Homo sapiens: one gene and its partners. The protein of the gene in region 2 interacts with the protein of the main gene of each other region in a pairwise test. Each region holds a gene or a part of one and is shown on either strand. Other genes may lie near its edges. The genes, in order: TFCP2, PSMD5, BTBD1 and BTBD2.

The links.
Region 1: the proteins of PSMD5 (region 2) and TFCP2 interact in binary tests that used the Homo sapiens proteins (3 or more experiments, as listed by UniProt).
Region 3: the proteins of PSMD5 (region 2) and BTBD1 interact in binary tests that used the Homo sapiens proteins (3 or more experiments, as listed by UniProt).
Region 4: the proteins of PSMD5 (region 2) and BTBD2 interact in binary tests that used the Homo sapiens proteins (3 or more experiments, as listed by UniProt).

The regions. Positions count from the first base shown.
Region 1 is NC_000012.12:51,092,523-51,100,429, forward strand, and holds the end of TFCP2 (alpha-globin transcription factor CP2), read right to left. Parts: intron 7,258-7,907; coding exon 7,133-7,257; intron 6,397-7,132; coding exon 6,254-6,396; intron 3,519-6,253; coding exon 3,467-3,518; intron 2,757-3,466; coding exon 2,719-2,756; 3' UTR 1,134-2,718; downstream 1-1,133.
Region 2 is NC_000009.12:120,839,312-120,848,230, reverse strand, and holds the start of PSMD5 (26S proteasome non-ATPase regulatory subunit 5), read left to right. Parts: upstream 1-5,308; 5' UTR 5,309-5,321; coding exon 5,322-5,494; intron 5,495-8,919. UniProt on the Homo sapiens protein: Acts as a chaperone during the assembly of the 26S proteasome, specifically of the base subcomplex of the PA700/19S regulatory complex (RC).
Region 3 is NC_000015.10:83,056,596-83,064,522, reverse strand, and holds part of BTBD1 (BTB/POZ domain-containing protein 1), read left to right. Parts: intron 1-2,677; exon of another isoform or gene 2,678-3,036; intron 3,037-7,927.
Region 4 is NC_000019.10:2,012,367-2,020,174, reverse strand, and holds the start of BTBD2 (BTB/POZ domain-containing protein 2), read left to right. Parts: upstream 1-4,460; 5' UTR 4,461-4,471; coding exon 4,472-4,878; intron 4,879-6,456; exon of another isoform or gene 6,457-6,628; intron 6,629-7,808.

The DNA of each region.
Region 1 (7,907 bases), on a different chromosome or scaffold from region 2:
TGGTCTTGAACTCCTGACCTGGCTTAAAGTGATCCTCCCATTTTGGCCTCCTAAAGTGCTGGGCTTACAGGCATGAGCCACTGTGCCTCATCTATATATTTAATTTTATGCATCATTTGCAGTAAGAGTCACAAATGCAAAGATTTGGAAGAAACCTTAAAAGTCACCTAGCCTTGGGCCAGGTGCGGTGGCTCACACCTGTAATCCCAGCACTTTGGGAGGCCGAGGTGGGTGGATCATGAGGTCAGGAGTTCAAGACCAGCCTGGCCAACATAGTAAAACCCCATCTCTACTAAAAATAGAAAAATTAGCATGGCATGGTGGTCCGTGCCTGTAGTCCCAGCTACTCAGGAGGCTGAGGCAGGAGAATTGCTTGAACCCGGGAGGCAGAGGTTGCAAGTGAGCTGAGATCAGGCCATTTAACTCCAGCCTGGGCAACAGAGTGAGACTCCGTCTCAAAACAAAAAAGTCACCTAGTCTTGGCCAGGCACGGTGGCTCACACCTGTACTCCCAGCACTTTGGAAGATGAGACGGGGGATCACTTGAGCCCAGGAGTTCAAGACCAACCTGGCAGGCAACACAGTGAGACCTCATTTCTATATTTTATTTTATTAAAAAAAATTTTTTTGAGACAGTCTTGCTCTGTCACCCAGCCTGGAGTGCAGCAGCCTGATCTCAACTCATTGCAACCCCACCTCCCAGGTTTAAGCAATTCTCATGTCTTAGACTCCCAAGTAGCTGGGATTACAGGTGTGTGCCACCACGCCCAGCTAATTTTGTATTTTTAGTAGAGACAGGGTTTCACCATGTTGGCCAGGCTGGTCTTAATCTCCAGGCCTCAAGTGATCTGCTTGCCTCAGCCTCCCAAATTGTTGGGATTACAGGCATAAGCCACGGTGCCCAGACTCATTTCTATATTAAAAAAAAAAAAAAAGAAAAAGGCATCTAGTCCAACTTTCCTACCCAAACACCTAGACATAAAAAAAAAAAAAAAAAAAAAAAAAAAAATCCAAACCAATAGCAGCCTGCTGAGGAAAGAACTGAGGTTGAGAACCAGTACTAGGAATATAAGACAACCAGATACGTCTCCTCCTCAAAATGGAGACACCTGGTAATCATTCACTAAGAAGCATTTTGGTGTAATATAACAAGTTGCTCAGGTCAGTTTTAAACAAGTCATTGACTTAATTTTTTGGTTTCAAAGTTTTCAATTTGTTTCAAACCAAGAGAAATTAGACCATGATGCAGATTGAGTTTAATGAACAAAAATCTCTGTATAAAAAACATTTAAACCTTATCAAATGCTTTAAACACACACACACACACACACACACACAAATCCAAATCCAATACACAATCTTAGAACATTATCTTTGTGTACCTCAACATAACCTGTAAAAGTATTTCTAGATAAAACTTTACAAGTGAAGAAAGAAAACCCATGATGTTACACTTACACACTTACACACACACACACACACACACACAATCATTCTTAAGGAAGAACAAAAACATGGTAAGAGTGTGAACAGGAAGGGAATGCATCTTTTTTTGTAAAGCTTCTATTAAAAAACATAGCATGAGTAAAATAACTTCCTATGCCAAGAGAAGATGCAGAGAGAGGAAACAGAAAGCAGGGATGAGACTAACTCATTAATAAATAGTTTGAGAATGTCATTCAAGAACAGTAAATTTGGGGAGTTACAGATAATCCCCAGTTGTCACCACCTCAAATTCTTTGATTCCGATAACTAATGACACTTAAAAAGCATCTATGTGTTCATTTCTTGTAGGTCTTGATTTGTTCATCATTATTTAGGTGTGCTTTGTCTCTTTCAGTGGTTAATTCCTCAGTTCATACTCAGTGTTATGTTGTAGTCACCAGAAGGGCCACAGTAATAAGCGAAGTGAACACAGGTTATAATGGGTAGCACTGGTGGTATGAGAGGGTGAATAAGGAGGGCCAGATTGCCTGGTTTGGATTTCAGCATCACTGCCTGCCAGCTCCTGGCACCTAGCAAGCTACTTAGCCACTGTGTGTCTCCATTTCCTCATCTTCGGTTGGGGGTCACTATAGCACCTACTTCAGATAGTGTGATTAGGGGGTTAAACAAGATGGTCATTCAAAAAATTTATCACACTGCCTGGTCAATAAATGTTAGCTGAAAATACTATTAGTTGTGGTATTACAGGGGAACCAAAAGGAAAATTCTGTATTTCTCCTCACTGATAAAGTTTTCAGGGACAAACTGTGGCAAAAAGCAGAGATACCAGTACATTTGAGACCAGTACAAAGAGATTGAAGACCTAGTCTTATGAATATAGATACCCATTTTTATATAAGAAAAAAATTACAGGGCTCCATATCACAAAATTTAAGATCTTCCTGTTAAACATCACACAATTCCCATCATCATTATGCCCTACATACACTCTAAATTATGTAGAGTTTCTACTGATATTTAACAACAACAAGGTCCAGAAATTTAACTAAAACAGCTGCAGAACTGCATATTGGGCAGTAATCTGTGTGTACCACAAGAGCTTGGGCCAACACAGAGGGCCAGGATTCTGCCTCCATGGCCTGGACTCCTCCACACACAGTCAGACGAGTCAGGTTCTTGCAGACCTTCAAATCTCCATTCATATCCCCCTTCAAGAGGGCCGTTTTCAGAGGTGAAGGAAGGAGCAGCCACTGGGCACGAAACGCCGCACTCCTACTTCAGTATGATATGATAGCTATCATTGGTTTCTGCTGTTAAAAAAAAGAGAGAGAGAGAATCATCTTTAGTCACCTCTAAAACACAGCAGGAGAAAAAAAGTATGGTAAGATTCTCGTGAGAAGGGGAGAAAAGGGAGGTGGAGGTTGCAGTGAGCTGAGATCACGCCACTGGACTCCAGCTTGGGCAACAAGAGCGAAATTCTGTCTCAAAAAAAATGCATTATAAAAACAACATGCCTCAATTTCCTCATCTGTAATGGAAGATGGAAGAGAATGGCAAAAAGCTGGGCCAGGCACAGTGGCTCATGTCTGTAATCCCAGCACTTTGGGAGGCCAAGGTGGGTGGATCGCTTGAGGTCAGGAGTTCGAGACCAGCCTGGCCAACAAGGTGAAACCCATCTCTACTAAAAATACAAAAATTAGCCAGACATGGTGGCACGTGCCTGTAATCCCAGCTACTTGGGAGGCAGAGGGAGGAGAATCACTTGAACTTGGGAAGCGAAGGTTGTAGTGAGCCGAGATCATGCCACTGCACTCCAGCCTGGGCAACAGATCGAGACTCTGTTTCAAAAAAAAAAAAAAAAAAAAAAGCCAACTTAAAAAAAGGAACAATCTCTAATATTGTCACTTTCTTTACCCAAATATGGTTACTTTTCCTATCTCTCCTCAAAGAAGTATGTACTTTGCCTAGTAGTAGTAAAGCTGTTAAACTGCTTAGAGAAAGATGTTTGTCTTACTATTACCTTTCATTGTGTCCAGAATAAAACATGCTTCTTCCTGAAAGTTCTGTATCATCTGAAAAATGCAAGAAAATTTGTGATTATTTAAATGAAAAACAACCCCTTTATATTCCTGTGTCCCTAAGGACTACCCCACATCCAGAGGGATTTATATGGGAGGCTTTACAGGTCACAAATAATGTATTTCTTGAATATCTAGGATCATAAAAGTTTTTTCCTCCCCTCCCATTTGGTTTTTAAATATTAAAAAACTAAGCAGATTGGAAGAGTTGTTTTAAAGCCTGGTATGCATTTCCCTGGGTTAACCCCAAGACTCTCCAAGGAGCACACGGACACAAATATGTGCATACAGGAGAACTGACTTCCGTGTCTTCAACTCCCATATGTGCTCTTTCCTAAAACCTCTTTAATTTTCCTTCCCCACTTTCCCTTCTCAAACTCCCTTCTCCCAGGGATAAACTCCCTTCTCCCAAGATAAAGGCATGAGTTTCACCCTCCCAGGATCCTAATAAGGTGGCCCATGATGTGAAAGCTTCAGGTGGCAAAGTGGAATGGCGAAGGTGAACGCTAATAACTGAGCAATAGACCCTTTTATGAGCCACATGGTTTCTAACTCTTTCCTTTCACCAGAATTAAAGAGTAACCTAATCACAAATTGTCGTAAGACAGAGGATTCAAAATGATTTTTTGGTAATATCACTATGTAATTTCTGGTATATAATTCTGAAGTATAATCTAATGACATTGTCATTACAAAATTCCATCCATTCCTATCAATTTATGGGAATCAAGTCCCTCAGCATTTATATCTAGAGGAAAAAAACAGAATGGAATTGATGCTGAAATCCTGTGTCATTCTAGCAATCAATAGGCAGTATTCAGCTACAAAGGAAATAATTATGTGCAAGGGTACAGGTAGGGAACGAAACAATTTCATCGAACTCATTCATAGATATACCTGTAATAATTTTTTCTTAATTTTTTTTTTTTTTTCTGAGACAGAGTTTTGCTCTTGTTGCCCAGGCTGGAGCGCAATGCCCCCATCTCGGCTCACGCAACCTCCGCCTCCTGGGTTCAAGGGATTCTCCTGCCTCAGCCTCCTGAGTAGGTGGGATTATAGGCACGTGCCACCACACCCGGCTAATTTTGTATTTTAGTAGAGACAGGGTTTCTCTATGTTGGTCAAACTCCTGACCTCAGGTGATCTGCTTGCCTCGGCCTCCCAAAGTGCTGGGATTACAGGTGTGAGCCACTGTGCCTGGCCTTCTTTTTTTCTTTTTTTGGATGAAGTCTCGCTCTGTCGCCTAGGCTGGAGTGCGGTGGCGCAATCTTGGCTCACCGCAACCTCTGCCTCTCGGGTTCAAGCAGTTCTCTGCCTCAGCCTCCCAAGTAGCTGGGATTATAGGCACCTGCCATCATGCCCAGCTAATTTTTGTATTTTTAGTAGAGATGGGGTTTCACCATCTTGGACACGATGGTCTTGAACTTCTGACCTTGTGATCCACCCGTCTCAGCCTCCCAAAGTGCTGGGTTTACAGGCATGAGCCATTGCGCCTGGGCAGCCTTCTTAATCTTTAATAATTACTTATTAAAACATGTAGCATATTTACATTATTTTAATCAATTGTATAATTATGATAATTCCATTATAATAATTTTTAAATTTTTATTTAAAAACTTTATTTCAAACAAATATAGTAGGATAATCAATAAAAGATGTTTGTGCATAAAAATATGTTATGGTAAGATGGCCAGGCGTGGTGGTTCACATCTGTAATCCCAGCACTTCGGGAGGCTGAGGCGGGTTGATCACTTGAGGCCAGGAGTTCGAGACCAGACTGGCCACATGGTGAAACCCAGCCTCTACTAAAAATACAAAAATTAGCCAGGCATGGTGGTGGGTGCCTGTAATACCAGCTACTTGGGAGGCTGAGGCAGGAGAATTGCTTGAACCTAGGAGGCGGGGTTGCAGTGAGCCGAGATCACACCACCGCACAACAGCCTGGGCGACAGAGTGAGACTCTGTCTCAAAAAAAAAAAGTTACAGTAAGATAAAATTCACCGGGGGAAGTAAATGAAAATAAGAGTTCAAGGAAACAGAGGAATAGTATAAGAATTCTAACTGTTAAAGAAAAGCACAATCATGTATTTTTTTTTAATGGATGGTGGTGGTATTAAATCATTTTTGTATTAAGGTTACATGGGATGCAATTAGAATAATGATGTAACCATTTCACTTAAAAATGTCATTATATATGCCCAGAAATGACATCTTTTACAACTATTTAAACTTTAACAAAAAATTTTAAGTCAACCTAAAAATGTGCATGGGAATATGTGGTTTTTAAAATATTTTAGGACCAGGCGCAGTGGCTCACATCTGGAATCCCACCACTTTGGGAGGCCGAGGCGGGTGGATCACTTGAGGCCAGGAGTTTGAGACCAACCTGGCCAACATGGCAAAACCCCATCTCTACTAAAAATACAAAAATTAGCCAGGCGTGGTGGCGCACGCCTGTAATTCCCACTATTCGGGAAGCTGAGACAGGAGAATCACTTGAATCCAGGAGGAGGAGGTCGCAGTGACCTGAGATTGGGCCACTGCACTCCGGCCTGGGCAACAGAGAGAGACTGTTTCAAAAAAAAAAAAAATTAGGAGGAAAGCAAGCAAAAAAGTATGAAACCCTCTGATCTAGAAAACAGAACACTCTGCCCCAGGAGAACTGCTCTTGCTCCATGCGCTGACAAATTAATCATCATCTGGTAATTCAACTGTACTGAAAAATCTACCTCATCACTGATGAGCACATGAATTCCTGTTGGCCCCTGCTTGTAAATCTGGCTGATCTGGCAAGGGGAAATGCTGAAAAGCTGAGCAATTTTTTCTGTCAATTCAACAGCTGTTAGTTCTTCTAGATAGATAGCATGGTAAACTGCAAAAGGGAGAGAGCAACAGCAGTCAGTACAAAGTTTGTCCACTCTTACAGGTAACTTGATCACTAGGAATGCCCACTTTTCTGAAGGACTCAGAAATCACACTGCCTAAGTTCAAATCCTGGCTCAACCACTTGCAGCTGTGTGACCTAGGGCAAGTTATTTAACATTCCTAGGCCTGATTTTTCTTGCATAAATACCGGAGATAACAGTAAAATCCTCCGCAAAGAGGAGATATTAGTTGTAAATATTAAAGCATATAAAAAGTGTTAAGAATAGTACCTGGCTGGGTGTAGTGGTTTACACCTATAGTCCCAGCAATTTGGGAGGCTGAGGCAGGGAGATCGCTTGAGCCCAGGAGTTCAAGACCAGCCTGGGCAACATAGGGAGATCCCATCTCTACAATAAATAAAACAATTAGGCAAATGAGTAGCTTTAGTTCTAGCTACTCGGTAGGCTGAGGGGAGAGAATCACTTGAGCCCAGGTGGTCAAGGCTGCAATGAGTCATGATTGTGCCACTGTACTTCAGCCTGGGTAACTGAGTGAGACTCTGTCTCAAAAAAAAAAAAAAAGAATGGCACCTGCCATGTATTAGGAACTTAATAAATGCTAGTGATTATTGTTACTTCTAGCAAATACTAAATCTGCTGTTTGATAGTTTCCCATCACACATGCCCATAAGTTATCTCTTCACCTTTCTTCATATCTGTCCTAGTGTGTCCAGAACAACCTACCGAAGAAAGTACCATTTGAGTCTCCATCCTCATGCTTCTGCTGCTGTTGCTGCTGCTGTTGTTGCTGCTCCCTCAACTGCAGTGATTCCTGACAAACATAAATGGTTAACCTTGGACGCACCATCCTAAGGGGAGGAAAAAGGCTAATTAGTCTTACATTCTTTATGGTAAGCACAATAAAAAGAAGGGAGAAATTGTGTTTCTACATTAATCGTATAGAGCAGATGAAAATTGGAAGCTCATTGGCCAAATGCAATTAATTTGCTATGTTTTATTAGTTCCCCAGTAGTAGGGTTTTTTTTTTCCTTAAGTGGAATTAGTTCCAATATGAGACATCATATAAACCTCTGAACTTTTGGCTTTTCCTGAAGACTCAGATCTAGCAATCTTAGGCCTGCATTCTCACATGAAAACAATCAGCCGTTCTTCTTACATGATGCATATATTCTTCACTATACCCCAGTCTTGACTGCCATTCACTTACATTACCTGTATGTACTCTATAGTCATTTGAGTTTGTGGCCTTTGGTGTAAAAGTTAGAAATAGTCAAAATATAAAAGCCACCGTCTAATGGGTCAGGTTCAAGATATACTTTTTACTAAAAAATGCCAACACAGTAAACTAGATCATCTTATTTCTCTCATTACCTTCTCCTAACTAGCCTAAGTCCTTTCTCTGTTCTTCTTAGAGAAAGGTATTCAACTACCTCTTGATCTGATCATCTTACTCCTTCCAATTTCTAAACACCCTTTAGATAATATGCTTGAAAAAATG
Region 2 (8,919 bases):
AGTAGGATGAAATTCTATTCAATTTCCCAACACTGGTTCCCAGACTGGCTAAATGTGACTTATCTATACAAGTCTTTAAAAATTCAGAGACCTGGGCCCCATCCTCAGGGCGACTAATTGAATAGATTGAGGCTGGAGTTCAGGGATAGACCGCATGGCCAAATTTGGGAACTATGACTACAGATGGTGTGAGCCACTGAGGAAATAACATCACTGGGGAGAAAAAGGTAGCTTTCATTATATAGCTTATATGACCTTGAGAATGTATATTATGTCTCTCTCTTTTGAGGGTGTAAGGGAGAGAGGGAAGGAAATGAGAAACATGATCATCAGGGAAAGGAAGACGTACGACAAATCCTGCACAGCTAGTGCCAGGATGCTAAAGTATTGTGATGAGGGAAATGGTGCAGACCAGGCTTCTAAAGTGAAGTTGTTAATGAAATGAAAGGTAGACAATACGCAGAAGCAGCCTGTCATATATGCTAAACTGTCTGTTTTCTGGAGAATCCAAAAGCATTGGAAACTGTTTTCTCTGATATCCCTAGTTGGTTTACTCAAGGATAAAATGCCCAGACTTCCTTCCTAACAGCAGGCTAATTGATTTAACCAAAGAATGTGCAAACAAGATATACTGTTCCTAAATTATGCAGTTTTTCCTTCCTTCTCTATACAGTCTATTTTTGCTTTTGTTGGACAACATCCCACTGATCGATCGATCTCTGAATAAAAACACTGAAATGGACTGTTGATTATCTAAATGCCTTTGAGTTATTCTGACAATTCCTTTAATTCAGTGTTCTTTACACCAGCCAGGACCTGACCCTAGCACTCCCCACACTCCCCCCACTCCCCCTCCAATGGCAACAGCAAAACTCACAGTGAAGATGCCTTGAGTAGGATGTTCACAGAGGCAGCCAGCTCCTTATCCAGCATGGCCCTGAAGCAAAGGCACAGGGTGGCAGTTACTGGAGCAAGTCCTGGGGTCTCAAGAAAGGGGAAGGGGATGGGGTTCCAGGGACTTACCCAGGAAACCTGACTCTAAGTAGACAGGCTTTTAGCATTCCCTCCCCTTACATCCTCCCTGCTCAAACCAGCACATTCCATAACTATCAGGCACAAAACCTCTGAAGATAAGCTGTTTGTAAGTCCTTCTCTGGGTGAGGAGAGAAGCAGGGAAGCACCTATGGGAAGGCAGTTTGAATAACAGGCCCAGTCTGCTTAGAGAATGGGAGTTAACACTGAACCAAAAATAAGAAGACCTAGGTTCCATTCCCCGTCCTGCAGTAACATGGCTGTGTGATCTTAAGTTCCTTCTTTCATTCTAGTAAGAAGTATTCAAGCACCTACTCTGAGATAGGCCCTTTCCCACCTCTCAACTTGAATCTCCTATTGGTACAAGAGGATTGGTTTAGCTGGTGGTTTCCAACCTTTTTCACTACCGAGAACTTCTTTTATTATGCCACCTTCTGCTGTTAACTCTCAGAGATGCATCTGGTTGATGGGTGCTTTGATTTGTAGATACCCATGTGACCGCACAGAGCTGATACAACTCCAAAGCAAAAGCAAAAAAAGAATCATATCCTGTGTTCATTTTGGCAAATACAAGCTCTTTTCACTTGTTATTAAAGGTTTCTACCACAGCCCTAACAGCATAGTCATCTCCTTTACAGACCTCTAAGATTTTTTGACTGACTCCAGGCTGAAATGCCTTGTCAGATGTTGTTTGTGTGTGTGTTTTAGAGACAGAGTCTTGCTCTGTCACCCAGGCTGGAGTGCAGAGGCACAATCTTAGCTCACTACAGCCTCGAACTCCTGGGCTCATGCAATCCTCCCACTTTAGTGTCCCAAGTAGCTAGGACTACAAGCATGCACCACCATGCCTGGCTAACCTAAAAAAAATTTTTTTTTACAGATGGGGTCTCATTTTCTGGCCCAGGCTGGTCCCAAACTCCTGGCCTCAAGTGATCCCCCTAACTCAGCGTCCCAAAGTGCTGGGATTACAAGTATGAGCCACTGCGCCTGGCCCAGATCACCTTTAATATTATACTGGATTTCAATCTCAGTCTGATTGCTGTGCATAGAATTGGTGAACACAATAAATTGTGTCTGAACTAGTACACGTGTCATAGAAATAGGAGCACCATCAGTGCAAGGAAGAAGTGTTCCCAACCATCCAAACTGCAAGCCCTCAGAGTGTAGCAGGCCCTGACAAATCTTCCTCAGATCTCTGACAGCCAAAGGTCTCCATTCCATGAAGTGCTTGGACCCTGCCAAACAAACCTTATCTGAGCCCTGCTCCCTGCTCTCTCCTTCCCTCAGCTGCTGCCAAGAGAATTGACCTACTCTGTCTTCCCTCAGGTTGAACACTGCTGAATTTAAGGGCTCCATACTAATGTGACATTACCGCCACCATCATCGTTCCTTTGGAAAGTTCCAAGAGGTAAATAAGTTCCTGACTGTGAAGAGTGACACATGGCATGAATCTGCTTTTGCAATTGCTGCCAGTCTTACTCAGTCACCCACTGAGAAATTATATTTTAGTGGTTCTGGAGGTGGCATGCAAACACAGGCAGAGTTACACCTCTAGAAAAAAGAATCCCATTGTCTCACAGGCCTTTCCCAGTCTCTTTGAGAGTGTAGACTCCTTGGGGACTGATCACAGCAACCTGAAAGATTACAGAACTGTTGAGCATTTGGTTATTCAAAAAGCCCATAGGGCTATAGAGTTGACTGAATGTAATTTTAAATCACACACACACACACACAAAACCAGCAGTGAGTCATCCATGGGGTGCCCAGGTTCTAGGAAAGCAGAAGACAGATGTGTAGAGCTACTAGGATCTCTAAAAACTGCAGCCATCACAGAATACTGGCTCACAAACCAGATGCATAGATCAGCTCTCACAGCATTTTTTTTAAATTCTTGATTTTGTTAACAAAATTTCCTTTTTTTTTTTAGTCAGAAAAAAAAAATTTCTTTTTTTGTCTCTCTGTCAACCAGGCTCCCCTCAGACTCAGATTCTGTATCCATCACCTTCACCTAAATGACATCCTCTTCTTCATGTCTTCCTTCTCTTTCTTCAAGTCCTTTGCTTTATTTTGAAGGTTCTTTTGCATCTCTTCATAGGTATAAGCAATTTATTGAAACCTTTTTTAAAAGTCAGGCTTCAATCCAGGAAAGGATCCATATGAATTGTAGCATCAGACAGCATTCAATTTCCTCTGCAAAGACTTCTTCCTATGGAAATAGACTCTCAGTGATGACCAAAGACAGAAACTTGAGTAGCTCATTAATTTCACTTTCCCTAATATCAATAAATCTTAAACCCACCTGTTTTGCAGACACTAAGATTTTTTTTAACTTCTTCATTAGCTCTAGGGAAATATGCATCATTCACACATCCTCCCACAGTTTCCAGCAAGCTTAAGAGTGGCTGATTTTATATCACCCATCACCTCTTTTATCACTACCAAAGCATCGGCAATATTGTACTGTTGCCATGCTTCTTTCAGAGTAAGGTGAGGGTTTTTTCAATACAGTCAGCAAAGTGGTCAAACATATGCTTGATTATGTTCAAATGCTTCAGTTATACCCTGACCCAAGGGCTGAAGAAAGCTAGGGCCTTCCTGAGGGAGAAACACAGTATCAACATTAGAATGAACAAAGAATAATGAATCTGGGTGATTGGGACCTCTGTCCACAGTTAGCAACATTCTGATTTCCAGATTTTTTTTGTTAAATGACTTCGGATTTGATGGATAAAAAAATTGTAAAACTAATCCAAAAAGTGGCAGTGGTGATTCTGGGTGTGATTACAAGAAAACAGGAAGGCGTTTATCTCTAAAAGACAAGTGGGGTGTTAGAGTCTTTGTAAAGCAGCAGTGGTTTTATCATTTTGTCACCTGAGGCACTGCCACAAAAAAATGAGGGAAATCCTGTCCTTAGCTTCCTCTAAGCTTTCCAGATTTTTGTCTTTTGCCCCAAAAGTAGGAAGGCATGCACTGCAAAAGATGGGTCATCTCCTTGGCGTTGAAGACCTGTTGAGGCACAAAGCCTCTCTCCAGTTGCTTGGAATACTCGATACCCACTCAGGATTTAAGGGTCCTTCCTCCCCATCAACTTCGTATGTTGCAAAACAGCAGCGATTTTTAAAGTTCTCAAACCATCCCTTGCTCGCATGATACTTATTTGGGTTGTCCTCCCCAGATGTTTCCCATTGGTTCCCTGTAGATGTATTTGGCCTGGTTGCAGAGGGCCTTCCGGGTCAGATGCCGCCCTCTGTCATCTGGCCTTCCACCTAAAAGGTTAACTGGGTCTCCACCTTCACGATGTTTACATTACAGGGGAATACACAGCAGCTTAGAGCAGATGGGCGACCAACTCTCCACGCTGGTCTTTCTTGGTTTCCTGAGGGTAGTGGAGGACAAGAGGGGAAAGCAGGGTCTTGCTCTGTCGCCCAGGCTGGAGTGCAGTGGCACAATCACCGCTCACTGAAGCCTCGACCTCCTAGACTTAGGGGACCCTCCCGCTTCAGCCTCCCGAGTAGCTGGGACTACAGGTGCGTGCCACCACACCGCACTAATTTTTTTCCTTTTTTTTTTTTTTTCTTTTTGGTAGAGACGGGTTTCTCACTATGTTGCCCAGGCTGGTCTCGAACTCCCGGGCTCAAGCGATCCTCCCGCCGCGGCCTCCCAAAGCGCTGGGATTACAGGTACGGCCACTGCGACCAGCTGCTTCTCCTTGGTGGACTGATCAACACCAACAAGGCGGCGCACGTCCCTATTACTCACGCCTTCGTCAGGCTCCTGGAGAATATTCATCCAGTCTTCCAGAGGCATGACGCTCCGCCTCCTCTTGACAGGTGGCTGGCCCAGGATCAAGATTCCCCTCCAGGCCACCGCTCCACCTGGGGAGGCCTCAGCCGCGGCCGTAGCCGCGGTGGCCTCCATAACGGCTGCAGTCGTCCCCGCCTAGAGCCTGGTTTTGGAGCCTCGAGGACGCCGACGAGGCTGTTTAACTTCCCGTGAGTCCCCACCCTCGCCGCTCCGCTGGCCGGGAATTTGGCAAGGCTTTGCCCTACGCGGTAAACACGTAAGCCTACTGGCCTCCGCATTTCCCTGAGCAGCGACCTAGATGACGCCAGACTGAGGGAGCCGCAACCACTGGCTACAGTTGACACGGCCCTAACGGAGGCTTCTCGCGAGGCTTGGCAGCCCCATAGCCATCTCAGGGACAAGGAGGCTGTGATCAGATCTCGCGAGGTTCAGGAAAGCGCCCCGGGAACTGGGCCGCTGGGCCAGCCCCTGCGTCGGGGGGCAAGATGGCAGCCCAGGCTTTGGCGCTGCTGAGAGAGGTAGCGAGGCTGGAAGCGCCGCTGGAGGAGCTACGCGCGCTTCACTCCGTGCTGCAGGCAGTGCCGCTCAACGAGCTTCGCCAGCAAGCGGCGGAGCTGCGCCTCGGCCCGCTCTTCTCCCTGCTTAACGAGAACCATAGGTGAGAGGACCCCGGGGGCTTGAGCCGAGGAGAGGGGCACCCCTAAATATGGACATGAGAGTGGTTGAGGGCAAGAACAGCGCTTTTCCCAGTCACAGGGGAGGTGGAAAGTAGCCGAAATTTGCAGAGAAGGAAGGATCCTGGGTTCAGAGGCAGGAGATGGGGTTCAGGTTCAGCCTCTGAGAGTGCCCCAGGGTGTTTTCTCCCGTCGCCTGGCCTCGCTGCCTCTGAGCAGTGAGGCACTGCCTTCTTCATCAAATAGAAATTAAAGGAGGAAAGCAAAGCTGTCCACTTACAAGGAGCATTCCACATCTCTTTGTACAGGTTCTTGATTTGTTTCCCCTTCTAAAAGGATCCTATCCTGGCAATGTGGCAAGAACCATCAGCATTTTAAATTCACATGCTTTTTCATCCAGTCATTCTTGTTAAAAAAATTTAATGCAAGTATACGCGCACAAAATGTGCAGTTACTTTGTTCTTTCGAACCCGAGGCTGGAATCGCCCCAAAAGCAGCGGCAAGAGAGTTCCCACGAGGGAGTGCTTCAAACCTTCCCGAGATGTGGCTGGTTGGGATGACAGAAAAAGAAGCACTGAATGCCAAGGCGATCAGTCCAAAAGCGTTTAGGGGGAAACCTGCAGAGGGCTGCAGAAATTGTCAAGACGGACACCGGGAGAAAGGTGTTCCTGGGTATGTCCGCAGTGAGGGGGTCAGGGTATGGAGTTCAGATGAGAGTTTAAAGGAATTTGGCTCAGGGTTGAGGCCAGTTTCTTCCAGTGTTTTGGGCAACAACCTAGGTACCTTTATCAGGCCTGTGAATGTTCAAGGCCCCTGGTTTATGGTCAAGCCTGCTAGGGAAACCTGCCGCTGGCTAGGTCAGAGAGCAATCAAGGCACTCTGATTTTCCATCAGGACAGAGAAAGAAAGGGGGCGACTGGAGGACCCTACAACATTATATGCAAGAATATAACATATCGTGTGTGGCACCAGAACACTAGAAACAATCTAAATATCCGTTAACAGAGGATTCCAAATTATGCGCTATTACTCTGTAACACTGTGCAGTTATTTAAGTTATTGAGGTAGATGTATATATATGTATGTGGACATGGAAAGATCTCTGTGTTTTGTTTTGTTTTGTTTTGTTTGTTTGTTTGTTTTCAGACGAGTCTCGCTCTGTCTCCCAGGTTGGAGTGCAGTGGCGCGATCTCGGCTCACTGCAACCTCCGCCTCCCTGATTCACGCCATTCTCCTGCCTCAGCCTGCCGAGTACCTGGGACTACAGGCGCCCGCCACCACGCCCGGCTAATTTTTTGTATTTTTAGTAGAGACGGGGTTTCACCATGTTAGCCAGGATGGTCTCGATCTACGGACCTCGTGATCCGCCCGCCTCGGCCTCCCAAAGTGCTGGGATTACAGGCGTGAGCCACTGCGCCCGGCCAATCTCTGTGTTGTTGAATGAAAAAGAAAATCGCAGGGTATATCAATCTATAATTTTAACCTGTAATTTTTAAAAAGGATTACAATCTTCCCAACCCCCACAGGCATGTAAAACTTGTATAACATTGCAAATATCTGCAAAGGTACACCAGAAACTATTAATAGGGAAGTGGGTCTGAAAATAGTAGGACAACTTTTATTTTTGATTTTTTACACATCCGTAGTGTTTGATTAAAAACACTTTGTAGGCCCGGTGCAGTGGCTCACGCCTGTATTCCCAACACTTTGGGAGGCTGAGGCGGGCAGATCACCAGGTCAAGAGATCGAGACCATCCTGGCCAACATGGTGAAACTCCGTCTCTACTAAAAATACAAAAGTTAGGCCAGGCACGGTGGCTCACGCCTGTAATCCCAGCACTTTGGGAGGCCGAGGCGGGTGGATCACAAGGTCAAGAGTTCGAGACCAACCCGGCCAACATAGTGAAACCCTGTCTCTACTAAAAATACAAAAATTAGCCGGGCATGGTGGCACGTGCCTGTAGTCCCAGCTACTCTGGAGGCTGAGGCAGGAGAATCTCTTGAACCTGGGAGGCAGAGGTTGCGGTGAGACGAGATCGCTCCACTGCACTTCAGCCTGGGCAACAGAGTGAGATTCCGTCTCAAAAAAAAAAAAAAAAAAGCAAAAATTAGCTGGGCTTGGTAGCGCACACCTGTAGTCCCAGCTAGTTGGGAGGCTGAGGCAGGACAATCACTTGAACCTGAGAGGTGGAGGTTGCAGTGAGCCAAGATTGCACCACTGCACTCCAGCCTGGCAACACAGTGAGACTCCATCTCAAGATAATAATAATAATATAATAATAATAATAAAAACACTTTGTAGACCGGGAGCAGTGGCTCACACGTGTAATCCTAACACTTTGGGAGGCTGAGGCGGGTGGATCGCTTGAGCTTTGGAGTTTGAGACCAGCCTGAGCAACATGGTGAAACCCTGTCTCTACAAAACAAAACAAAAAATTAACTGGGCGTGCGTGCCTATAGTCCCAGCTACTTAGAGGGCTGAGGGGGAGGATCCCTTGAGCCCAGGAGGCAGAGGTTGCAGTGAGCCAAGATTGCACCACTGCACTCCAGCCTGGGTGACAGAGTGAGGCCCTTTTTTTTTTTTTTTTTTTTTTGAGACGGGTTCTCGTTCTGTTGCCCAGGCTGGAGTGCAGTGGCAGGATGTAAGCTCACTGTAACCTCGCCTCCCAGGTTGAAGCAATTCTCCTGCCTCAGCCTCCTGAGTAGCTGGGACTATAGGCACGTGCCACCACCACAACGCCCAGCTAATTTTTTGTGTTTTTAATAGAGATGCAGTTTCACCATGTTGGCCAGGCTGGTGTCGAACTCCTGACCTCAAGTGATCTGCCTTGCCTGCCTCGGCCTCCCAAAGTGCTGGGATTACAGGCATGAGCCACTGCGCCCAGCCAAGACTCTGTCTAAAAAAAAAAAAAAAAAAAAAAAGATTAAAAAAACATTTTATAATTCTTACCTGGATTCTGGGGAAAAAAAGGAAAAAAAAACCACTTTGTATTTGATAATTTGATCATTTAAAAGAGTTTTGAAATGTTTGTGATCAAAGACTTTCAAGTGACCTTACTACTTGAAAAGATTATGAACCACTGAATCAACAGTGGATGATTTCAGAGCGCTTTCTTGGCTCTGACCTTCTAAGATTCCTTCCTTTTCTGTAAGTGTTCTCCATTCATGATGTCTATCAGTTAACATTATTTGGGTCTGCCTATGAAATGTCTCTTATTTGTCTCCTCTTTAATTCAAGCCCTCATTTTTTCCCTATTGCTAGGTCTGTAGTGTTAGTCTGACTTCTCCTTACCTCTGAAATTCCTTTTCTAGCAAATTCCTTTTCTAGCAAATTCCTTCCCACCTTGTAACCCCAGTGAGCATACATCTCGAGTCAGCTGGTGCTAATCTTTTCCGTGGTTTCCCATTG
Region 3 (7,927 bases), on a different chromosome or scaffold from region 2:
ATATTTTAATATTTTCACCGAAGCTGCTAATTAGTGCTTTCCCATCAATAGAAAGTAAGTTAATTTTAGAGTGTTTGAAATGTAGGACAGTGCAATTTTTTTTTTCACATTGTAAAACATTTTTTACATTTTTAAACTTTTTTTTCATTTTTACATTTTCAGTGTGTTTTATTTTCCTAGCATTGTATTTATCCTTCAGGTTCTGGTCATTGTTCTATTTTGAAATTGATATCTGGACTGATTTCTAAATTTAATTTTGGCTGGCTGTGTAACGTAGATGTTGTTGTTAGCTAATACGTGACAAAAAGATGCCTGATAGTACTTGCTAAGTTGGAAGAGCAGGTTAGTTTGGGCATACTTGTAAACATCCTGAATTAGTTAACATTACTTACAGGCTCATGAACTTAAGTTTGAAGCCCTTAAAGAAACTGTGCACTTTGAACTGCCTGACCTTTAAATGATGTTCTTCAGTTGTTTGACAAATACTATATGCCTCCCTTTTGGGGCGCTTGTGAAACAGCGAATGGCTGTTGTAGGTGTTTGGGACACAGCAATAAACAAGAAAAAGTCCTTGCCCTCATGAAGCACATAATCTAGTAAAGGGAAACTAAAGATACAATGTCAAGTACTGATGAATGTTTTGAAGAAAAATAATCAAGTTATGAGAGAAGGAACATTCTCAGCAAGGGAACGCATTGTTTTCGGCACTAAGTATCTCCTGTTGGAGGAACACAAGAGTGAACCAGTGTGCCTTAAGCACAGTAGAGGGAAGTGGTAGAAAATGAGGTCAAAAAGATAGGCCAGACAGGATGGTGCAGGGCTTTAGAGACTGAGCGAAGACTTTTTCAGCTGGTATTTGATGGAAAGCCTTTGGAGAGTTTTGAATGAGATTGGGGAGGCGGAGGTGGTGGCAGGAGGTTGTGATCTGATTTACATTTTAAAAAAACAAACTCTTTCTGGCAGTGGTTGGAGTAAAATAGGCAGCAAGGTGATAGATGAAGAGGCTTTTGCAGTAGTCCAGGCAAGAGGCGATGGTGAATTGTACCTTGTACCAGGGAGGTAGCAAAGGACATGATGAGACATGGTCAAATTCTGGATATATTTTTGAAGGTACAACCAAGAGGACTTCCAAGACATCCAAGTAGTGTCATAGAGTAGACAGAAATATGAATTTGGAGGTGAGGGAACAGCTTGCTGAACATAAATTTGCAAGTTAAGAGTGAATGGTATTTAAATCGAGAGATCAAGTGAGATTACCTAGGAAGGCATGTAGACTGTGAAGAGAGGTACAAGGATGAGCTCTGGAATCTTCAAATATGTAGAGATGTAGCAGAGAAAAAGCATAAAATGAAACTGAGAAGCAGCTGTCAGTGGAATTAGAAGAGAAAGAAGGAGCATTATATTCTGAAAGTCAAGTCAAAACATTTCAAGAAAGAAGAAGTGGGAAATGTCAACTATGGAAAGTGGAAAGTGGTCAGTTATGCTCAATGCTATTGAGAGTCAGGTATAATGAAGACTTTGAGTTGATTTTTAATCTTGACAAGGTGGAAGCTATCGATAACCCTGCCAAGAGTGATTTCAGCTGATTAGAGTAGGTTAGGCAGAAAATGGGAAGTGAGGAGCTGGAGACAGTATAAACAGTCCTCTCAGGAGTTTTGTTGCAAAGGGGAACAGAGAATGACGTGATGGCTGGAAGGGGCACGAGGTAAGTGTTCTTCAGTATTCAGTCCTCAGCTCTCATCCTTTCTCCCATCAACCAAAGTGAGAGCTTTACGCACTCATTCCCCCACATGTGTCTCCAAAGCTCTACTTAGCTCCAGACCCTCATTTCCAACTGGACCATCGTGAAGTAATGTTTTATACCCATGCAGATGGACATGTTATTAATGAAAATATCTGACATTTAATGAGTACTTTTACTGTGTGCCATAGATTGTTCCTAAGCCCCTTTGTGATCTCACTTAAATTTCAGGAAAATCCTTTGAGACAGGCATACTTCTTATCCCCCTGCAATAGCTTTTGCCATATTAATGCTATAAATAAAGCAACCCCCAAAAAGCAATAATTTATTCTTGCTTATGATTCTGTAGGTCAGCTAGGAAATGACTTCATGGGCCTAGCTCCAAATTGTAGTTTCGTTTCACTCCATTCTACACATTTCTTGTCCATTTTAGACCATTCCTGAAAATTTTACCTGCCTCTCCATTTTTTTCTGCATTGCTTCAACCAAACTACTGCGTTTAGACTTAACTCTCTCCATTCATCCTGTTAACAGTGATCTCTCCAATATTGGTATATGGTCATATAATTCCCCTGAATCTTTTAATGACTTCTTTTTACCTACAGGATGTTTAAACACTTTAGCAGGTACATGAAACCTTTGTGATTTGATCTCTCTTTCTTCATCTCCTCTCCATCCACTCAGTGTTTCAACCCTAATTACTAATGGCCTTTTTCTTGTTTTAGTGCCTGCTTCTAAGGCCTCCTTACCTTTGTACTCCTCAGTCTTTCTGCCAGGGCTCCACACTTAATTACTACTCTTCAGATAATCTTCAGGCTTTACTTCCTCTGTAAAAATTCCACCCACAGGCAAAATTGCACACTGGCTCATCTAATTAATCTCTCACAGCATGTTTTGGTTATCTGTTGCTGTGGAACAAATCACTGGAATGCGTAGTGACTTAAACAACTTTTATTATCTTTTACAGTTGTGTGGGTTGACTGGAATCACTTAGGTGGTTTGTCGTCTATGTAGCTGTAGTCAGATAGCAGGTGGGGTTGGACTCATCTGGAGGTTTAACTCACAGTCTGGGATGGCTGAGCCTTAAGTCTCAGGTCCTCTTCAAGAGGCTTCTTCAGCTGGTCTCTCCAGCAGGGTAGCTTGACTTCGTGGCTCATGACTCCGAGGAACACAAAAGCAGGAGCTGCCAGGCATCCTTAAGGTGTAGGTCTCAGACTGGTGCAATGTCACTCTGCCACAATCTGTTGGTTCAAGGGGCTCACACAGGGACAACCCAGATTCATCATGGGACAGATCTATGTAAGGACATGAACACAAGAAAGTATGATTTCTTGGGGCCATCATTAGAGATTAGTTATTAGATATGAGTGCCTAATATATACTTCTGTTATTAGGACATTACTTTTTAATCATTTCAGTACCAGACTATAGTTGCGTGCTGCATAATGGCATTTTGGTGAACAGTGGACTGCAAATAAGATGGTGGACCCATAAGATTATAATACGGTATTTTTACTGTGCATTTTCCATGTTTAGATACACAATACTCACCATTGTTTTAAAGTTGCCTATAGTATTCAGTACAGTAACATCCTGTACTGGTTTGTAGCCCTGAAGCAATAGTCTATACCACATAGCTTAGGTGCGTAGTAGGCTATACCATTGAGATTTATGTGAGTGCAGTCTATGATGTTTGCATGATGATGAAATTGCCGAACAATGCCTTTCTTAGAATGTATCTCCATCTTTAAGTAATGCATGACTGACTGTGTAAGGTTTTTATGGGCAAAGCTATCTTACCCATATTTTTATCTCTAGCACTATTACAGTGCCTGCTATATAGTCCCTCAATAAATGTTTTTGAGTAAAATGAACAGATAAGTAGTGATACAAAGTTTCTTACACATATCTTGTGATCATTCTTATATAAAATCAAGTATTCACCTTAGGCTTTTAAAATTTACTTTATTTTATTTTATTTTATTTTTTGAGATAGAGTTTCACTCTGTCGCCCAGGCTGGAGTACAGTGGCGCGATCTTGGCTTACCCAATCTCCGCTTGCTGGGTTCAAGCAATTCTCCTGGCTTAGCCTCCCGAATAGCTGGGATTACAGGTGTGTGCCACCACGCCTGGCTAATTTTTGTATTTTTAGTAGAGATGGGGTTTTACCATATTGGCCAGGCTGGTCTCAAACTCCTGACCCCAGGTGATCCGCCTGCCTCGGCCTCCCAAAGTGCTGGGATTACAGGTGTGAGCTACCGTGCCCGGCTTTAAATTTTTAGTTAGATTAAATATAACCTAAGTTGTTTTTTTTTTTTTTTGAAAATTATTAATTTGGGGGGAAAATAGGACTAATTTGAGGACATGTAATAATTTTTCTGTGCTCTCGTCCTTAGAGGTTGTATATGAGAGCTTAAATGATCACTTTAAAATACGAAGAATTGTGGTAATGTCATGTTTAATCTTTACATTTTAAAAACCTTGGCTTAGTTTTTTTTTAAATATTATAAAAACTCTAATAATTAAATAGAATGTAAAGGAAATGTATACATATGAATCAAGAGGATTCTTGGATTTTTAAGTAACTTTTTTTATTAGAAATGAAAATATTTTCCCTTTTGACGTTACATAGAAACCTGTGCTGAATTGTCTAGTCAATTAACGTGTATTTATTGAGACTTAAACACATGCCCATAATGTGCCTGGTACTGTTTAAGAAATAAATTAAAAATATAAGATACACAGAGATCCTTTTCTTACTGTTTATTGTCCAGTATTTATTTTTAATTTGCAGTGCACCCAAAAGAACTTAAAATGTCTTATAAGAAACACAAGGGTAAGAAATAAACTAGAGTCAAGGGTGAAGCTAATAGAAAAATGTATGCTGTCAAGCTGGGTACAGTGGCTCAGGCCTATAATCCCAGCACTTGGGGAGGCTGAGGCGGGAGGATTGCTTGAGGCCAGGAGTTTGAAACTAGCCTGGGAAATATAGCAAGACCTGTCTCTACAAAAACATAAAGCATAAAAAAAAATGAGCTGAGCCTAGTGGCATGTGCCTGTAGTGTTAGTTACTCTGGAGGCTGAAGCAGGAGATTCACCTGAGCCCAGGAATTTCAGGATACAGTGAGCTATGATCGTGCCACCACTCTCCACCCGGAGTGACAATGAGACCCTGTCTCAAAAACAAACAAAATGTATAAGCTATAAACTTTTGTTGTTGTTGTTGTTGTTGTTTTTGAGACGGAGTCTTGCTCTGTCGCCCAGGCTGGAGTACAATGGCGTGATCTCAGCTAACTGCAACCCCTGCTGCCCGGGTTCAAGTGATTCTCCTGCCTCAGCCTCCTGAGTAGCTGGGATTACAGGCGCCCGCCACCATGCCGGCTAATTTTTGTGTTTTTAGTAGAGTCGGGGTTTCACCAGGTTGGGCAGGCTGATCTTGAACTCCTGACCTCAGGTGATCCACCTGCCTTTGCCTCCCAAAGTGCTGGGATTACAGGCGTGAGCCACCATGCCCGGCCAACTTTGTTTTAATTATCTGAGCAGCTAGTGCAAAAAGAGAAACCTGGGTGGACGTAATTATTTATAGATTAAAAACAAGGCAACTGCTTAGGAGATGCACAAATCTGATAATTAGATGAGTTTTTAAAAAAATCCTGATGAGATCCCCTCATACAGAAGACATTGCTGTAATGAAGTGTCTTCAGTCTGTGTCTTCAGATACATACTTGTTTTAAAAAATGTTCCTTGATAGAAAGCAAAAGTATATTACTGAAGTATAATTTGATAAAAGCAATTTGAATGGGAGATCTCACACAAAATAATCTACAAACTTGATTCTCTCTTGTTCCTGGAGTGTACTTCCCACCGTCCTTTTAATCTTTAGATCTAATCTCAAGCAGAAATTTCTCTACAAACCTTTTCCACATCTTCCTAAGTCAAAGCCCGCATTTATAGATTCTCATAGAACCATGTATAGGTTTGCGGCACTTGTCCTGTTAAGTGTGAATCTAATCAAGGGCAAATGGTGATAAAGGCCTCACATTGCTGCTCTGTTTTACAACTCTAGTAATTTTTACCTGACAAAAATACATCAAGGCAGGCATGTAAAGACTTCTAGACTGCTACCTTGTCCTTCAAACAAAAATTTCTTTTTTTTTTTAATTAAAAAAAAATTTTTTTAAGTCTCACTTTGTTGGCCGGGCTAGAGTGCAGTGTTGCGATCTCCGCTCCCTGCAGCCTCCACCTCCCAGATTCAAGTGAGTCTCCTGCCTCAACCTCCCAGATAGCTGGGATGACAGGCATGAGCCACCGTGCCTGGCCTAAAACAAAAATTTCATAGTTTTCTAGTTTAAGAAGGGAATTGAGCATGCTGTTAGCATTCTCTCTCTCTCAATTAAAATGACTATTAAGAAATTTTTAAAAAATAGTAAGTCCATTACAATGAAGAGAAAAAGAGAGGTTGGAAGGGCCAACAGAGTAGAAAGGGACAGAGAAGTTGGAAGCTGATTGATGGATGAACTAGAGTAGATGAATCTGGAGCCCAGAATCCAGAGCTTTCAAAGCCGCAGCGGAGCTGGAGCGCCTTTCCTGGCAGAACCCCAACAAAGTTCTTGGCTAGCAGTTGGAAGTAAGGAGGGTGGAAATGAGAAGGTAGTGCTAAAACATGGAAATTAATTTAAAGCCTGTGTATAGACCATCCCCTTAGCCAGCTGTCCATGACAATGGACAGGCTTTTTGAGATAAATTGAACAAACTGCCTGAGAAGAACTGGGACTGCTGGGTATGGCTTTGGGACCCCAGGGTTAAGCTCTCTTCCAATGGCTTTGAGGGGTCCCTGCCCTAGGGCTGGCTTCCCACTCTAATGCCAGGTGCCAGTCAGCAAGCCTCCCACATACACAGAGCTCCCAGCCAACATTTCTGTTTTGGAGATAGTATTATCTTGAAAACAGACCAGCTGCTTAGAATAGTGAAGTTGGAGACGGAGTTTAATCATCTGACATATAAGGAAAAGCAGAACGTGAATGACAGAGACCAAGAGAAACACAACAGCGGATCCTCAAGGAAACAGACGAGAACTTTTAAAACTTTGGTTAATGTCATCTTGGAGACTTCAGAAAGTTTTTGCGTTCATAAAACCAGCACATGGTGCTGTGGAGAAAAAAGGAACGATCAAGAAAGAAGCAAGCATTCTTAGAAATTTAAATGTGATTGCTGTAGAGAAAAATAGGAAGGCACCAGAAGATAATGGCAAGGAAATCTTCCAAAATGCAGAGGGAAATAATGATAAAAAATATGAGACAACATACAGATAAATAGCTAATATTTACTGAGGCAATTTTTTTTGTCAGGCGTTATTCAAAATGCTTTGTGTTTTAATTTATGTTAATCCTCACAACCACATTATGAAGTAGGTGCTCTTATTCTCATCTTTTTAGAGAGGCAGGCATTGATAATAAGTCACATGGCTAGCAAGTGACAAAACAAGCTCAAACCCAAGCAGTCTATTTCCTCTTGGCCTTACTGTATGGCACTGAAAACAGTCAGAAGCCCTGAAATGGTGTGTTATGGTAAACAGCTCTCCTGTTTCCTCAGCCTTGGTTTTCTTATTAAAATGCAGGGAATAGCACCTTCCTTCTATGTGAGAGGATTAAATGAATTGGCATTTGTCATACGGCAGACACTCAACAAATGGTAGCTTTCTCTCTGGTTTTATTCATTCCCCTCTCTTTGGCCATGAGGGACTGTGCCTTACTTAGCTTTTAATTCCCTGTATTCATCACAGAGTTTGCTACATAATGTCAAGTGAGCATTATGAGGGTGATACAGTTGAGGCTGAGGTGGGAGGATAGCTTGAGCCTAGGAGTTCAAGACCAGTCTGGGCAATATGGTGAAACCTGTCTCTACAAAAAATAAAAAATTAGCCAGGTGTGATAGTGCAAACTTGTAGTGCCAGCTACTTAGGGAGCTGAGGTGGGAGGATGGCTTGAGCCAGAGAGGTTGAAGCTGCAGTGAGCCATGCACTCCAGCCTGGAATCGATCAAGACCCTGTCGATGGATGGATGGATGGATGGATGGATAGATGAATGGATGGCTGGGTGGGTGGGTGGGTGGGTGGATGGATGGATGAAAACATAAAATAAAAATATAAGTAAATACTCCTCAGAAATTTAACTGTGATGGATTGCT
Region 4 (7,808 bases), on a different chromosome or scaffold from region 2:
TTAAAAAAAAAAAAATTAGTCATGGTGGTGCGCGCCTGTGGTCCCAGCTACTCAGGAGGCTGAGGCGGGAGGATCACTTGAGCCCAGGAGGTGGAGGCTGCAGTGAGCTGTGACCGCACCATTGCAGTCCAGCCCTGGAAGATAGAGCGAGACTTTGCAGAAAAAAGAAGGAAGGAAGGAAGGAAGGAAGGAAAAAAGAAAGAAAGAAAGGAACAAGAAAGAAAGCAAGCCAGCCAAAGAAAGAAAGCCAGCCAGCCTGAGTGTCCTGGAGTCAGAGAAGAGGAAAGGGGACCGTGGGAGGGAAGAAATGACATCCCACCCTCCTGGCCAAGGATGGTTCTATTATGTGAACTGCACACTTCTCTGGAAATGAATGGAAATCCAGCAATCAGCTTGGTGACGAGCGCCCTCTAGACGCCATCACCGCATAGACAGGGCTGGGATTGGTTCCAGAAACCCGGGGAAAACTCAAAAACGCTCAAAACGCACTGCCAGGGGCAGGTGTTGGCTCAATAGCCAGCAAAAAAAAAAAAAAAAAAAAAAAAAAAAAAAAAAGCACTGACAAAGGACAAAAAGGCTCCGCAAGCTTCCCTTGCCAGCCCTAGGGCTGAGGTGGACTCATGTTTCTGCCTTCATAGATAATCTCCATCCGTAATATGTTTAGGTCTAGTGAGAGGTATGGTTTACTTACAGCGAATGCACAAATCTTAAGCGTAGTTTGGTTAATTTAGGCAAATGCATGAACCTGTATCACTCACACCCCTCTCAAAATCACATGGGCCGGGTGCGGTGGCTCCCGCCTGTAATCCCAGTATTTTGGGAGGCCAAGATGGGCAGATCAGGAGGTCAGGAGATCGAGACCATCCTGGCTAACACGGTGAAACTCCGTCTCTACTAAAAATACAAAAAAATTAGCCGGGCGTGGTGGCAGGCGCCTGTAGTCCCAGCTACTTGGGAGGCTGAGGCAGAAGAATGGTGTTAACCCGGGAGGCAGAGCTTGCAGTGAGCCGAGATCGCGCCACTGCACTCCAGCTTGGGCGACAGAGCAAGACTCTGTCTCAAGAAAAAAAAAAAAAAAAAAAAAATCTCCACATGGCCGAGTGGTTCACACCTGTAATCCCAGCGTTTTGGGAGGCCTAGCGAGAAGATTGCTTGAGCCTAGGAGTTCATGAGCAGCCTGGGCGACAAAGTGAGATCCCGTGTGTGTGTGTGCCTGTGTGTGCGCGCACGCGTGCGTGTGTGTTAGGCAGGGCCTCACTTTGTCGCCCAGGCTGGAGTGCAGTGGCACAATCTCAGCCTCCCCAGCTGTAGCCATCCTCCCACTTCAGCCTCCCAAAAGCTGGGACTACCGGCACACACCAGAACACCTTGTTAATTTTGTATTTTTTTGTGGAGACAGGGTTTCACTATGTTGGCCAGGCTGGTCTCGAACTCCTGAACTCAAGTAATCTGCCTGCCTCGGCCTCCGAAAGTGCTGGGATTACAGGCGTGAGCTACCATGGCTGGCCTACAGCTCTTTAAAAAAAAAAAAGTCCAGGCGCGGTGGCTCACATCTGTAATCCCAGCACTTTAGGAGGCCGAGGTGGGCGGATCACGAGGTCAGGAGATAGAGACCATCCTGGCTAACACGATGAAACCCCGACTCTACTAAAAATACAAAAAAAAAAAAAAAATTAGCCGGGCATGGTGGCAGGCGCCTGTAGTCCCAGCTACTCGGGGGGCTGAGGCAGGAGAATGGCATGAACCTGGAAGGCAGAGCTTACAGTGAGCCGAGATTGCACCACTGCACTCTGGCCTGGGTGGCAGAACGAGACTCCATCTCAAAAAAAAAAAAAAAAAAAAAAAAAAAAAAAATCGTGAACATCTCAGCATTCCGTAAAGTTCACCCTTTCCTCAGACAACCTACCATTTTGTTAATTTCTGTCACCATGGCAGGTATGCCTGTTCTGCACCTTCATCTAGAAGGGACTGCACAGATGTCCTCTTTAGGATTTGGCTGGAAAGATGTCACTTTGCAAATGTATGAGATGAGAGATAAGAAAGTTGACATTTAGAGGCCGGCTGTGATGGCTCCCGCCTGTAATCCCAGCACTTGGGGAGGCCAAGGCAGGCGGATCACCTGAGGTCGGGAGTTCGAGACCAGCCTGACCAACATGGAGAAACCCCGTCTCTACTAAAAATACAAAATTAGCCGGGCGTGGTGGTGCATGTAATCCCAGCTACTCAGGAGGCTGAGGCAGGAGAATCGCTTGAATCCGGGAGGCGGAGGTTGTGGTGAGCTGAGATCGTGCCACTGCACTCCAGCCTGGGCGACAGAGCAAGACTGTCTCAAAAAAAAAAAAAAAAAAAAAAAAAAATATATATATATATATATATATGTATATACATACACACACACACATATAAAATTAGCCAGGCATGGTGGCAGGCGCCTGTAGTTCCAGCTACTCGGGAGGCTGAGGCAGGAGAATGGCGTGAATCTGGGAGGCGGAGCTTACAGTGAGCCAAGATCGCGCCACTGCACTCCAGCCTGGGCGACAGAACGAGACTGTCTCAAAAACAAAACAAACAAACAAAAAAAAATTAGCCTTAGCCAGGCGTGGTGGCGGGTACCTGTAACCCCAGCTACTCAGGAGGCTGAGGCGGGAGAATTGCTTGAACCAGGAGGCTGAGATTGCAGTGAGCCAAGATCGCCATCACTGCACCCCAGCCTGGGCAATAGAGGGAGACTCTAAAAAGAAAAAAGAAAAAAGAAAAAAAAATTGTAACTACCTCAACCACCCACTCTGGAGAACTGAAAATAGCATTATCACTTGGGTTTTTTTAATACCCTATTTTCTTTTTCTTCTTTGTTTTTTTTTTTTTTCGAGACAGGATCTTGCTCTGTTGCCCAGGCTGGAGGGCAGTGGTGGAGTCATAGCTCATCAAAAGCTCAACCTTCCAGGCTCAAGTGATGCTTCCGTCTCAGCCTTCTGAGTAGCTGGGACAACAGGTGCGTACCACCACGCCTAGTTTTTTTTTTGTTTTGTTTTGTTTGTTTGTTTGTTTGTTTGAGACGGAGTTTTGTTCTTGTTGTTCAGGCTGGAGTGCAATGGCGCGGTCTCGGCTCACTGCAACCTCCGCCTCCCAGGTTCAAGTGATTCTCCTGCCTCAGCCTCCCGAGTAGCTGGGATTACAGGCACCCGCCACCAAGCCTGGCTAATTTTCGTATTTTTAGTAGAGATGGGGTTTCACCATGATGGGGTTTCACCAGGATGGTCTCGATCTCCCGACCTGGTGATCCGCCCGCCTCGGCCTCCCAAAGTGCTGGGATTACAGACGTGAGCCACCGCGCCTGGCTAATTTTTGTATTTTTTGTAGAGACAGGGTTTTGCCATGTTGCCCAGGCTGGTCTCCAACTCTTGACCTTAGGTGATGCACCCCCCGCCTTGGCCTCCTGAAGTGCTGGGATTACAGGCGTGAGCCACTGCGCCCGACCTGGTTCCTCAATCTTTGTGGCATTTGTCTACCTTGACATTATGTATGTAGTAAGCGTTTTGGGGGAGTCCCAGCTCCGTCCACACTGACCACCCCCCACACCTGGCCTGGAGAGGGTGCTGGGCGTCTGCTGAGTGTCAGTGCACGTGGCCTGCATCCTGCTCGCTCATCCGCAGCTTCCCGGCCTCAGGCTATGTCTCTGTACAGCGGAGCCTGCGCCACGGAGCAGGCCCGCCACCTGGGTCCGGGGTCTGGGGTCTGGAGTTTGCGCTTGGTCTTTGGGTTGGGGGTTCCGGGTCTGAGGTATGGGATCTGGAATCCGGAGTCTGAAGTCTGGGGTTCAGAGTCTGGGATCTAGGATTCAAGGTCTGAGGCCTGGGATCCCGGACTGAGGTCTGTGCTCCAGGGTTTAGGATTCCCGGTCTGGAGTCTGGGGCCTGGTGCCTGGACCCCAAATTCTGGACCTCGGTCTGGAGTCTGGGCTTCAGGTCAGGATGCTTAGGGAGTGGAGCAAGAGGTCTTCCACCAGCTCCTCCCCTCTACAGGCCCCTCCTACTCTTCCCTCTCCTCCCCGTCCCCTCCCCTGCAACAGCCTCCCCCATTCACCTCCCTTCTCCCCTCCCTCCTCCCCTCCCACCTCCCCTCCTTTCCCCTCCCTCTCCTCCCCTCCCTCCTTCCCCCTCCTTTCCCCTCCCTCTCCTCCCCTCCCTCCTTCCCCCTCCTTTCCCCTCCCTCTCCTCCCCTCCCTCCTTCCCCCTCCTTTCCCCTCCCTCTCCTCCCCTCCCTCCTTCCCCCTCCTTTCCCCTCCCTCTCCTCCCCTCCCTCCTTCCCGCTTCCCCTCCCCTCCCTCCTCCCCTCCTTTCCCCTCCCTCCTCTTTTCCCCTCCCCTCCCTCCTCCCCCTCCTCCCCCTACTCTCCTCCTTTCCCCTCCCTCCTTCCCTCCTCCCCTCCCTCCTTCCCTCCTCCCCTCCCCCGCCCACGCCGCAGCCACAAAATGGCGGCGGGTGGGAGCGGCGGGCGTGCGTCGTGCCCGCCGGGGGTCGGGGTCGGCCCGGGCACGGGGGGCAGTCCCGGGCCCAGCGCCAACGCCGCCGCCACCCCGGCCCCCGGCAACGCGGCCGCCGCCGCCGCCGCCGCCGCCGCCGCCGCCGCCGCCCCTGGGCCGACGCCGCCCGCCCCGCCGGGCCCCGGGACAGACGCGCAGGCCGCGGGCGCGGAGCGGGCGGAGGAGGCGGCGGGCCCGGGGGCGGCGGCGCTGCAGCGCGAGGCCGCGTACAACTGGCAGGCCAGCAAGCCCACCGTGCAGGAGCGCTTCGCCTTCCTCTTCAACAACGAGGTGCTGTGCGACGTGCACTTCCTGGTGGGCAAGGGGCTCAGCTCGCAGCGCATCCCCGCGCACAGGTGGGCGCCCCGACCCCGCCAGCCCTGGCCCCGACCCACCCAGCCTGCTGCCCGGGCCCTGCACCTGAGGCCCTGCACCCCTCTGTCCCCGAGACCCCCGCACCCCTCCATCCCCGAGCCCTGCACCCCTCTGTCCCCGGGACCCCTGCACCCCTGCATCCTCAGGCTCCGAACCCAACTCGGCCTGCACCCCGGGGCCTGCACCTGAGGCCCTGCACCCCTCTGTCCCTGGGACCCCTGCACCCCTCCGGTCCTGAAACCGACCCGGCCTGCACCCCGGGGCCTGCACCCTTCCATCCCTAGACTCCACCCAGTTCCCTGGGCTCTGCACCCCTCTGTCCCTGCCTCTGCACCTCTCTGTCCCCAGACCCCACCAGGCCTGCACTCTGGGCCTCTGCACCCCTCCATCCCCAGGCCCCCCTGGATCCTCCACCTCTGGCTTGCGCCCCCAGCCTGTTCCCCGGGATCCCAGGCCCTGTACCCCTGGGACCCCTGCTCTCCTCCGTCCCTGGACCCACCCAGCCTGCACTCCGGTACCCTCCGTTCCTGGGACCCTCCAACTCGGCCTGCACTTGGAGCCCCTGGGCCCCTCCATCCTCAAACCCCACCCAGCCCGCACCCCAGAACCCTGAATACCCCATCCTCAGGGCCCTCCACCCCCCGCCTGCACCCTAGGACCCTCCATTCTTCCATCCCCAGGACGCTCCATCCCTGGACCTCACCCCTCCCTGCACCCCAGGTCCCCAGACACCTCTGCCCCCAGATCCCTGGGCCCCTCCACCTCCGGCTGGAACCCCTGCCTACACCCCAGGCCCCTCCATCCCTGGACCCCACCTGGCCTGCATCCCTGGGTCCCCTCCATGCCCTGGCCCTGCACCCCCACCCACCACCCCTGGGACTCCTGTGACCCTCCAACCCTGGGACGTGTACCCCTATCTGCTCCTCCATTCCCAGGACCCCAACCCACTGTTTCTAGGACCCATGACCCCACATGCCACACCCCTCCATCCCTATACCCGGGGATCCTCAGGACCCCTCCATCCCCAGGCCCTGCACCCTTGCCTGCCGCCCCTCTCCCCCTGGGACCCCTACTGGTGACCCCTCCGTCCCTGTACCCAGGGACTCTCCAGGACCCCTCCTTCCCCAGGTCCTTCACCCCTGCCCACTGCCCTTCCACTCTCTACTCCCGGGGCCCCCTGGGACCCCACTACACTCAAGTGTGTCACCCCTGCATCCCAGGATGGAGAGACTTCTCCGCTCTCACCTGAGACCCCCCGTCCCCAGTCCTCACCACCTCAGTCCGTAACCCCCAACCTATGACTCCTGAACTCCAGGACCCCTCCCTTCAGGGGTCGTGCTATTTCCTCCACCCCCACCCATGACCACAAGACCCCTCCCTCTTCCCCCACCATCCAGGGACCCTGCCACTCCCACCCGCACCCCTGTGCGCCAAGACCCCTAGGCCTTGCTCCCTGCGTCCTCCCTGCTGCCTCCAGACCCAGTGACCCCCACCGGAGACCCCCAGGCTCAGCACATGATCTGGATCAGAGACCTTCAAACCATGCTGCTCCCCTCCAGGGATACCCCCTGCCCGCCCTGCAGTCCAGATCATAGACTACCATCCACAGCCCCTCCAGCCCCGGACCCCCACCTCAGCCAGAGACCCCTGGGCCCTGCCACCTCCCACTTCAGTGACCACCCACCTCCAGCTCCGCCACTGCCAGGCTCTGGACCCTGGACTCTGCAGAAGGTTGTCTCCCCTGGGCCCTGCTACCCCCTGCACCCCATCCTATGATCCCCTGCCACCAGGCCACCACCCTAGACCCCTGCCCAGACTCCCATCTCCGGGCCCTTCCAACCCAGAGACCCCCAGCTCCGGGGTCCCTCCCTCCCCAGCCCCCAGCCCTCCTTTCTGGGAAAGAAGTGGGTTTGGCCCAGTATCTGTCTTTGCCAGTGTGCGGGGTACCGGCCCCAGGCCCCAGGTTCCCTCCACTCCCCGGTCCCTCTTACCCTGCCCCTCATTGGTCGGGGGCAGGGGCTGGGTTTTCTTGCTGCGGGCACTGGAGGGGGAGGGTCCTGCCCTCCCTTCTGACCTTCGGGTGCTTTTGTTAACGTGTTCTGGCTTCTTCCTGGGTGTTTATGGGCAGCTGGGTCTCCTTTCGTGGGGTCCTGCCCTGGGCGGTACTTAGCAGAGGTTCCTGCCCCTGGAGGGTTCCGGGGCCTCCTACGGCTTGTGCCGTCCGTGTCGCCGTCCCTGTCTCTGTCGTCCTTAGCTGCTGGGCCTCTCCTAGCTTGGAGTGAGGGGCGGTGGGTTTGCTCCCTCCACCTGGGTGGTCTTTGTGCTCTTTGGGGAGGGGGTAGGTTGGATGCAGCTGGAACTCACCCAGCAGCAGGTGCAGCTGGAGAATCCCAGGCTTTCTGTTTGAGGGGGGAGGTGGGGCGCCCCGGGCACCGGCTGACCTTGGGACATGTATGCGATTGCACTTGAGGGACCGCTGGCTCGGTTGCAAAGTGGGGAAGATGGAGGCAGGACAAGGACCCCTTGGAGAAAAGTAGGTGAGGGGTCTGCCCCCGGGGGGCTCAGGAGAGGGCAATGAGGCCCAGCGGGAGATAGCAGCAAGGTAAGGTGGGCGGGCCTGGGACAGCGGACCCTCGACATGCGGGGTTAGGGGCGTGGACCCCCACTCAGCTCAAATCCAAGTACAACTTTTGACTCCCACGAACTTAACTAGGAATGGCTTCTCGCTGACCGGAGGCCTTGTGAGGACACTTGGTCAATGCACACCAGCCTCCTGTTCTCACAATAACAGGCTGGAGAACAGAAAATACATTCAGAAAAGTCTAAGGGGCCGGGTGCGGGGGCGCACGCCTGGAATCCCAGCACTTTGGGAGGCCGAGGCGGGCAGATCACGAGGTCGGGAGATCGAGAC